Linked DNA regions of Homo sapiens. The protein of the gene in region 2 purifies or fractionates together with the protein of the main gene of each other region. This does not show direct contact. Each region holds a gene or a part of one and is shown on either strand. Other genes may lie near its edges. The genes, in order: RRAS2 and PADI3.

Region 1 (3,818 bases), on a different chromosome or scaffold from region 2:
GTCATATGTGGGAGTCATATGCTAGTTTGGAGAGAGGAGGTGGCAAGTGGGGAAGTGGGATTGATAGTTGATTTGGGACCTGTGATCTGGTCTCTGCAAAAAGGAGCCTTTTTGGAGAGACAGGAACCCGACCACCTGGATGCAGTCTCAGCTCTACCACTTGCTGCATGTGTAATTTTAGGCAGGTTACTTAACTTCTCTGTACCTTAGTTTTCCCCATCTGTAAACTGGGGAAATATGGTGGACCACATATAGCTGTGAAATTAAATGAGTTAACATGTCAAGGGCTTAGAACAGTGTCTAGTACAGTCTGTAGTAAAGCTGCATACATTTTTATATTAATTTTAGATTATGGAGCTAAAGCGATTTTTTTATATTTACACTTAATAGGGTAGCTATTCATTGCCTGACTCCTGGAATGTTAAAATTCATTCCACCATGATTGTTTAGCAGTAGTAACTGGAGGGAGAGAACACAGCAGACTAATCATTTTAATAAGCAGAAGTCAGTTCTCTTGGTAGGAGATTAGAATGGCACAAATTGGACTTACTTTTTTAAGACTCCTGAAACACCAGACTGTTTTTACAATTTTCAGTATATATATTTTCTACTATGTGATTTTGAGCAGAAAAAAATATAAAATTGGGAACGGAGAATTTAAAAACAATGCCTTTTACCCTAACTTTCTTTGACTTAGATTTAGTTGTTACCTTCTGTTCATATGAAGAGTTGCAAAATTAGGGAACTAAGATAATTAAATTGAGATACCTTTTCCTTTTTAAAAATAAATATAACAAATCATAAAGTAGCCATGATAAAATGTAAAGTATTATGTTATTTAATGAATATGTGTGTGTACATTACCTCCTCCTTTCTGTTGCTCATATTTCTTTGAAAAATGTGTAAAGTTCTGTTGGTAGGTAGAACACCTAAATGTTAAGTAAACTCTAGGTAGGAAATGACTTCAGGATGGTACAGAGTGGTTAGGAGAGACTGCTGGGTGTGTGGGGTCTATGTCTCTCTACCCAGGTGACTTTGAGTAGTTTCTTAATCTGCCTTTATCTCGACTGAGCTTCTCTTTCTTCCCCATGAAATGTTGGGTTTGGTTGAACAAATTTCTGCACTTTTGAAATTCTAGGAGTGTTTTTTTTTTTTTATTCATTTAACTAGCTGTGTGTTTAGTCAAGTTTCTTAGGTTCTCTAAACCCAAGTTTCACCATTTGAGAAGGGAGAATAACATTAAATAATAGTACCCTTAGGGTTTTTGGAGTAAATAAAATAATGCAGGTAAATCATCCAGCACCGTGCCATCTACAGAGTAAGCAAATAAGAATTGTTGGCTGGGCGTGGTGGCTCACACCTGTAATCCCAGCATTTTGGGAGGCCAAGGTGGGTGGATCACTTGAGGTCAGGAGTTTGAGACCAGTCTGGCCAACATGGTGAAACCCCACCTCTACTAAAAATACAAAAATTAGCCGGGCGTGTTGGTGCGTGCTTGTAATCCCAGTTACTCGGGAGGCTGAGTCAAGAGAATCACTTGAACCTGGGAGGTGGAGGTCGCAGTGAGTCAAGGTTGCGCCACTGCACTCCAGCCTGGGCAGCAGAGTGAGACTCTTGTCTCAAAAAAAAAAAAAAAAAAAAAGAAATTGTTACTTGGTTTTATTTGCTGCTGTTAGTTCTGTATCTTGGTGTTCCTCCAAAACAAAATTTGTAATTTTTTCATTTTTCTTTGACACATAATCTGGTCTATTACTTTAAGTCTTCATTGCCCTCTCCTTCCTGGCTCAACCCTATACTCCCCTCCTTACTTCTGTGTGGTATTCAGGTGATGAATGTGGATTCCGTTTTGAGTTGGAGAAATTTCTTTTTGTCAGTTTGGATTTAATTTTAAGAAATAATGAGGTAAGCATTTAATTTTGGGGTTAGTGCTTTATCTGGTAACTCTGAGAAAAGGCCATATATGTTTTAAAAATTTACAGGGAGGTTTATATATTTTTTTTAGCATATTAACTTTTTATTCAACAATTTGCCAGATTTTGAGGTAGGTAGGGGTTAGCTGATTTCTCACGTCTTGAATTTCAGTCAGTCCTATGACCTGTTAGTCTGGACCCAGCATTGCTTTTTAAAAGTTTGTCTTTTGCTGAGTACTTTTTCATTGCTTTTTCCTGGGGCAGAGAGCCGAGAAGAGATTTCAGGAGATTTGTGTTAATAGTTAATTGATCCACATGTGAAGGTTGTGAGTTTAAATTCCCAATTTGCTGTTCCATTGCTACATCTCGAAGATTTTTCCTGCAATTAGAAACTACTTAAACTGTTAACTTTTATCTATTATTTTGAAACTAGACATTTTTAGTGTTTAAACTTTTTTAACATTAATGTACAAATGAATTGTTAGCATTGAGAAATAAGACACCTGCCCCCAAAGTGGTACCATACTAAAGGTTTTCTTGTTTGGGGAACAGTTGAAATGGTCCTGCAGGCAATTCCTAGATAAAATTTCTGTACACCCAAGGAAGAACATTTTCTTATAGAGGATGACTGCCTTTGGAGAAGAAGGAAATTTTAACCTGCAGTTTCTTAACTTACGTCTTATTCTTGTTTTGTTCATTCTCTTTCTCTTTGTGTCTGTCTCTGTGTGTGTGTGTTTGTGTGCATGCGTACCCCTGTTTTGGGATAAGGAAGTTGTAGGAATTGAGTGGGGACACTTTTTTTTTTTTTTTGAGACGAAGTTTCGCTCTTGTTCAGGCTAGAGTGCAGTGGTGCAATGGCGTGATCTTGGCTATCTGCAGCCTCCACATCCTAGGTTCAAGCGATTCTCCAGCCTCAGCCTCCCAAGTAGCTGGGATTATAGACAGGCATGTGCCACAACACTCAGCTAATTTTGTATTTTTAGTAGAGGTGGAGTTTCACCATGTTGGCCAGGGTGGTCATGAACTCCTGACCTCAGGTGATCCACCCGCCTGGGCCTGCACCATGCCTGGCCGAGTGGGAGCACTTTTGTTGAGTAGGTCAAGAATACTGCTTTCCCTTGGTAGATAACAGGCTACTGCTTACCGGGATGGGATTTTAATTCATCTGATTGCTGAAATATCATGGTCTTTCCTAAGCTTTGAATAAAAATAGTCTGCTCCATTCAGTTAGGAAAATAAATTGATAACTTTAAATTGGGGGAGTAGAGTGGGAAGAGACTTTCTTAAAGCTATTAAAAAAAATTTTAGCTGGGCACGGTGGCTCATGCCTGTAATCCCAGCACTTTGAGAGGCTGAGGCGGGCGGATCACTTGAAGTCAGGAGTTTGAGACCAGCGTGGCCAACATGGTGAAACCCTGTCTCTACTAAAAATACAAAAATTAGCTGGGTGTGGTGGCGGGCGCCTGCAATCCCAGCTACTACTCAGGAGCTGAGGCAGGAGAACTGCTTGAACCTGGGAGTCGGAGGGTTGTAGTGGGCGGAGATCATGCCACTGCACTCCAGCCTGGGCAACACAGCAAGACTATATCTCAAAAAAAAAAAATGTCTCTCTCTCTCTCTCTCCCTCTCTCTCTCTCTCTCTCTCTCTATATATATATATTTTAAAAGTTTCTTTTTCAAATTAAAGTTGGTCTTTAAAATTGAAACAGATTTTGTGATGCCACTTGACACGCCTTTTTTTCTGGTTGGGGAAAATGGTCTTTAGGATATTAATTCCACCGTGCCTTCCTTAATGAAAAGTGATAATGAGTAAAGGATTTTCACTTTGCGTGTAGACAGTATGGAGTTAATAGTCATGAATTTTGTTGAAAGGCCTTGATCTTGAATTACTTTGGGCAGAGCTGCTGA
Region 2 (3,818 bases):
AACCAACAAAAAACAAAACAACAACAACAAACAAACAATAATAGGTACAAAGTCACATAATATTTCTGTACAAGAGTGCTCGATATTCATTAATTCATCAAATATTTACTGTGCAACTACAGTGCACCCATGGGGCACGGTTCTGGACTTGAACAAAGCCCCTGACCTCAAGCAACCTGCATTGTTATAAAATCAAAACACTGCAAACCACTATGATGTTCAGAGAACTGTGTAAGTCACAGCACCTCTATGCTTAGGAATATTATACAGCAGTGGAAAAGAATGAAGTAGAGCTCAATAAATACCAGAAAAGGTGTGTGGGATTATTACTTAATGAAAGAAGCCGGTTGGAAAGCAGCATATGGACACACGCTGGAGAACATGTAGAATAAAGTTGGGAAGCACACATCCCAACTCGTTAACAGTGACAATCAGATTCAGGCCAGGTGCGGCGTCTCACGCCTATAATCCTAGTACTTTGAGAGGCCAAAGCGGGTGGATTGCTTGAGCCCAGGAGTTCACGACCAGCCTGGGCAGCATGGTGAAACCCTGTCTTTACAAAAAAAAAAAAATTAGCAGGGTGTGGTGGTACATGCCTGTAGTCCCAGCTACTCGTGAGGCTAAGGTGGAAGGATTGCTTGAGCCTGAAAGGTGGAGGCTGCAGTGAGCTGAGATCATGCCACTGCACTCCAGCCCGGGCAACAGAGCAAGACCTTGACTCAAAAAAAAAAAAAAAAAGTCAGATTTAGAGACGGGTAGAGAACTCTCAGGTTTCATTTTCTATACTTCCATATTGTCTGATTATTTAAAAAATAAGCGGCCAGGCACGGTGGCTCACGCCTATAATCCCAGCACTTTGGGAGGCCGAGGCGGGCAGATCACAAGGTCAGGAGATTGAGACCATCCTGGCTAAGACAATGAAACCCTGTCTCTACTAAAAATACAAAAAATTAGCTGGGTGTGGTGGCACATGCCTGCAGTCACAGCTACTTGGGAGGCTGAGGCAGGAGAATCGCCAGAACCCAGGAGGTGGAGGTTGCAGTGACCCGAGGTCACGCCACTGTACTCCAGCCTGAGCAACAGAGCGAGACTCTGTCTCAAAAAAAAAAAAAAAAAAAAAAAAAAAGCATCTTATTACTTGTATACATTTTTAGTTTCTCAAAGGCATTTAGATTTTTACTTGTATTTCTTGTGATTTTGGCAGACTATGTAAAACAACAGCCATCTATATTTGGGGGGAATACAAACTGAATTAATTGGGTGAAATCTATGGTGTTTGGGGTTGGTTTTACAAAACTTCAGCGAGACAGACAAAACAGTGATAATTGTTTAATCTGAGTGACAGGCACATGGGGATTCACAGCACTGCTTTTTGTGTATGTTTGAAATTTTTGATAAGAATTTCTACACATGCTTAAAATGTATTTGAAAAGGTCATTCATCAAATAAAATGACCTCAGGCCAGGTGTTGTGCTGGGGGCACCAGTTCATCAGTTCCAAAGCCCCCACTTCTGACTGTTCTTACTGCGACCCGCCACCCACCAGGGCATCTCCCGGAGTGTAAGCAGGACCTGCCCATGGCCCAAGGCAGGAACAGGAGGTTCCCTGGTAGGCAACCTGGCAACAGGGCACAGATGGCAAGGGGCAGTGGCACAAACTCACCGCAGATGTGGAAGACCTGTGCCCGTTTGGCATCATAGCTGGAGGTATGGAGGACAAGTTTGTGGTCATCAAAGAGGGCTGCAGGGCCCTGCGTCCGCAGGACCATGACAGACATGTCTTCCAGGTCTGTGAAGCCAGACAGAGTGGTAGTGACTCAAGGGAGTCCTGGCCCCTGGCCCCTTCCTCTGCTGCCCAGCTCCCTCCCCAGGTCAGTGGGTATCAAGACCTGGGTCTCCCAGCCCTAGCTTTGTGAAAACCCTGGAAGCCATCAAGAACAAACCATGAAGACATCTATGCTCTCCTGGACTCATGTTTCCTCAATTGCCCAGAGAAACATGAAGTGTGGCATAGCCAGCTGGTGTCTGACACACAACAGGTGCTCCAGAGAAGCAAGGAGGGTAAGGCCATGTGGGCGTCGTGCAGGTAAGGGTTCTGGCCTCCATCCCAGCATCACTCCCTGTGACCCTGGACAAGCCCCTCCCTTCTGGAGCCCCAGCATCCCCATGTCCAATGGTGCCCACTTCAGAAGGCAACCGTGGGCATCTCCCGTGGACAGCACCTAGCATACCCTGGAATATTGCAGCTCATTCTCCATGGGGCTGGAATTCAGGACAGATGGACTTAGCAAGAGGTGGGGGAGTCACAGAAATGTAGGCCAGAGGTGCTGAAGGAGGAGGCCCAGATTTGGGGTTGAGAGGGGAGGCCCCAGATCAGACACAGTCTTCAGGGAGTCTCCTGGCTTCTGAGTCTCAGCATCCTCATCTCTAAATTGGGGTGATGATATTGTCCCACTTGGATGATTCAATGAGAATTTGGGGAAAAGGCCTGGCACACAGTAGGTGCTCAAATAATGCTAGCATCCTCTGCTCCCCTGGAGGAAGAGAATGGCGAGGTGGCTCATTTCCAGAGCTTCTGCCCTGGCATGTGAGTGCTCACTGGCCCTAGAGACACTAGGGAGGGGCAGCTGCCAGCCTGAGATGGGTTTTGAGGAGCATCGAGGTGTGTCTGGAGGCTGGCGCTCTCCCCTGGACTCTGGCCTCAGAGTCTCGCCTGTGGGTTGGAACTCCCATGGGGTAACTGAGCAGTGACCCTGGACACCCAGGGACTCAGGCTGCCCCGGCCTCACCTTGCAGGCAGTGCACGTGCTGGTCACAATTGTCCTGGACATCACAGCTCGGATCATCACGGTCACAGTTCACCAGCAAGATGCCGCCATACCCACTGGGCCCCCAGACCCACTGCCGCTGCCAATGACAAAACATAGCCAGTGATGAGGGCTCAGATGAGACCTGTGCCTCCCTACCCAGGAACCCGAGCCTGGCCTGTAACCACCCAACCCTGTGAGGCTAGGTCCACGTTCTCGAAGCACCTCCTTCTCAAGACATGTCAATGGCAATGGCTCTCTGTTGCCCACACCATCCAGTCCAAAGCACAGAGCTGTCTTTCATGGCTATCTGTGATGGGCCTTCAGCCAACATCCTCTTTCTCAATAGGCAACCTGATTATAGGACCACACGCCTCACTCTGTGCTCATTCCTCCATTAAACCCTCCTTGGTTTTGCTCCTGCCATTCCCTGCACCTGGAACGTCCTCCCTCCTGCACCCCTTCAGAGCTCAGCTCAAGGGTACGTCCCTCCAGGAAGCCTTCCTCACCCACCCAGCCCACCTCGACCTTCTCCTCTTAACTCCCAGGGCACCAAGTTCCAACATAATTCAGTCCCAAGTTCTTCAACAGTTTCATATTTGGTTTCTCTTCTCGCCTAGGTCAGGATCAGCACATTATGAACTGTGGGCCAAATCTGGCCTACTGCCTGTTTGTATAAATAAAGTTTTATTAGCACACAGTCACATCCATCCATTTCTGTATTAACTGTGGCTGCTTTCACACTATAGTGGCAGAATTGAGACCATATGTCCCACAAAGCCTAAAATACTTGCTATGTGACTTTTCACGGAAAAAGTTTGCCCACTCCTGACCTAGTTTATGAGTCCAGAAGGTCTTGATCCCACAAACCAAGGCCTAGCTCAGGGCTGGGTACCTCCATGCCTGATAATTCCTGGCGATGATTTTTCTCCTGGTGAAAGAAGATCCCCAGCCATGCCTGGTTTCTGTTTTTGGCCCTTGGTCTCGGCATCAGCTGGGAGGCAGGGGGATA

Evidence for each region.
Region 1: the proteins of PADI3 (region 2) and RRAS2 purify together in Homo sapiens (affinity purification with mass spectrometry; one large-scale study listed by BioGRID and IntAct). This does not show direct contact.

The regions. Positions count from the first base shown.
Region 1 is NC_000011.10:14,352,497-14,356,314, reverse strand, and holds part of RRAS2 (ras-related protein R-Ras2), read left to right. Parts: intron 1-3,818. UniProt on the Homo sapiens protein: GTP-binding protein with GTPase activity, involved in the regulation of MAPK signaling pathway and thereby controlling multiple cellular processes. Regulates craniofacial development.
Region 2 is NC_000001.11:17,265,807-17,269,624, reverse strand, and holds part of PADI3 (protein-arginine deiminase type-3), read right to left. Parts: intron 3,559-3,818; exon of another isoform or gene 3,329-3,558; intron 2,907-3,328; coding exon 2,789-2,906; intron 1,789-2,788; coding exon 1,663-1,788; intron 1-1,662. UniProt on the Homo sapiens protein: Catalyzes the deimination of arginine residues of proteins.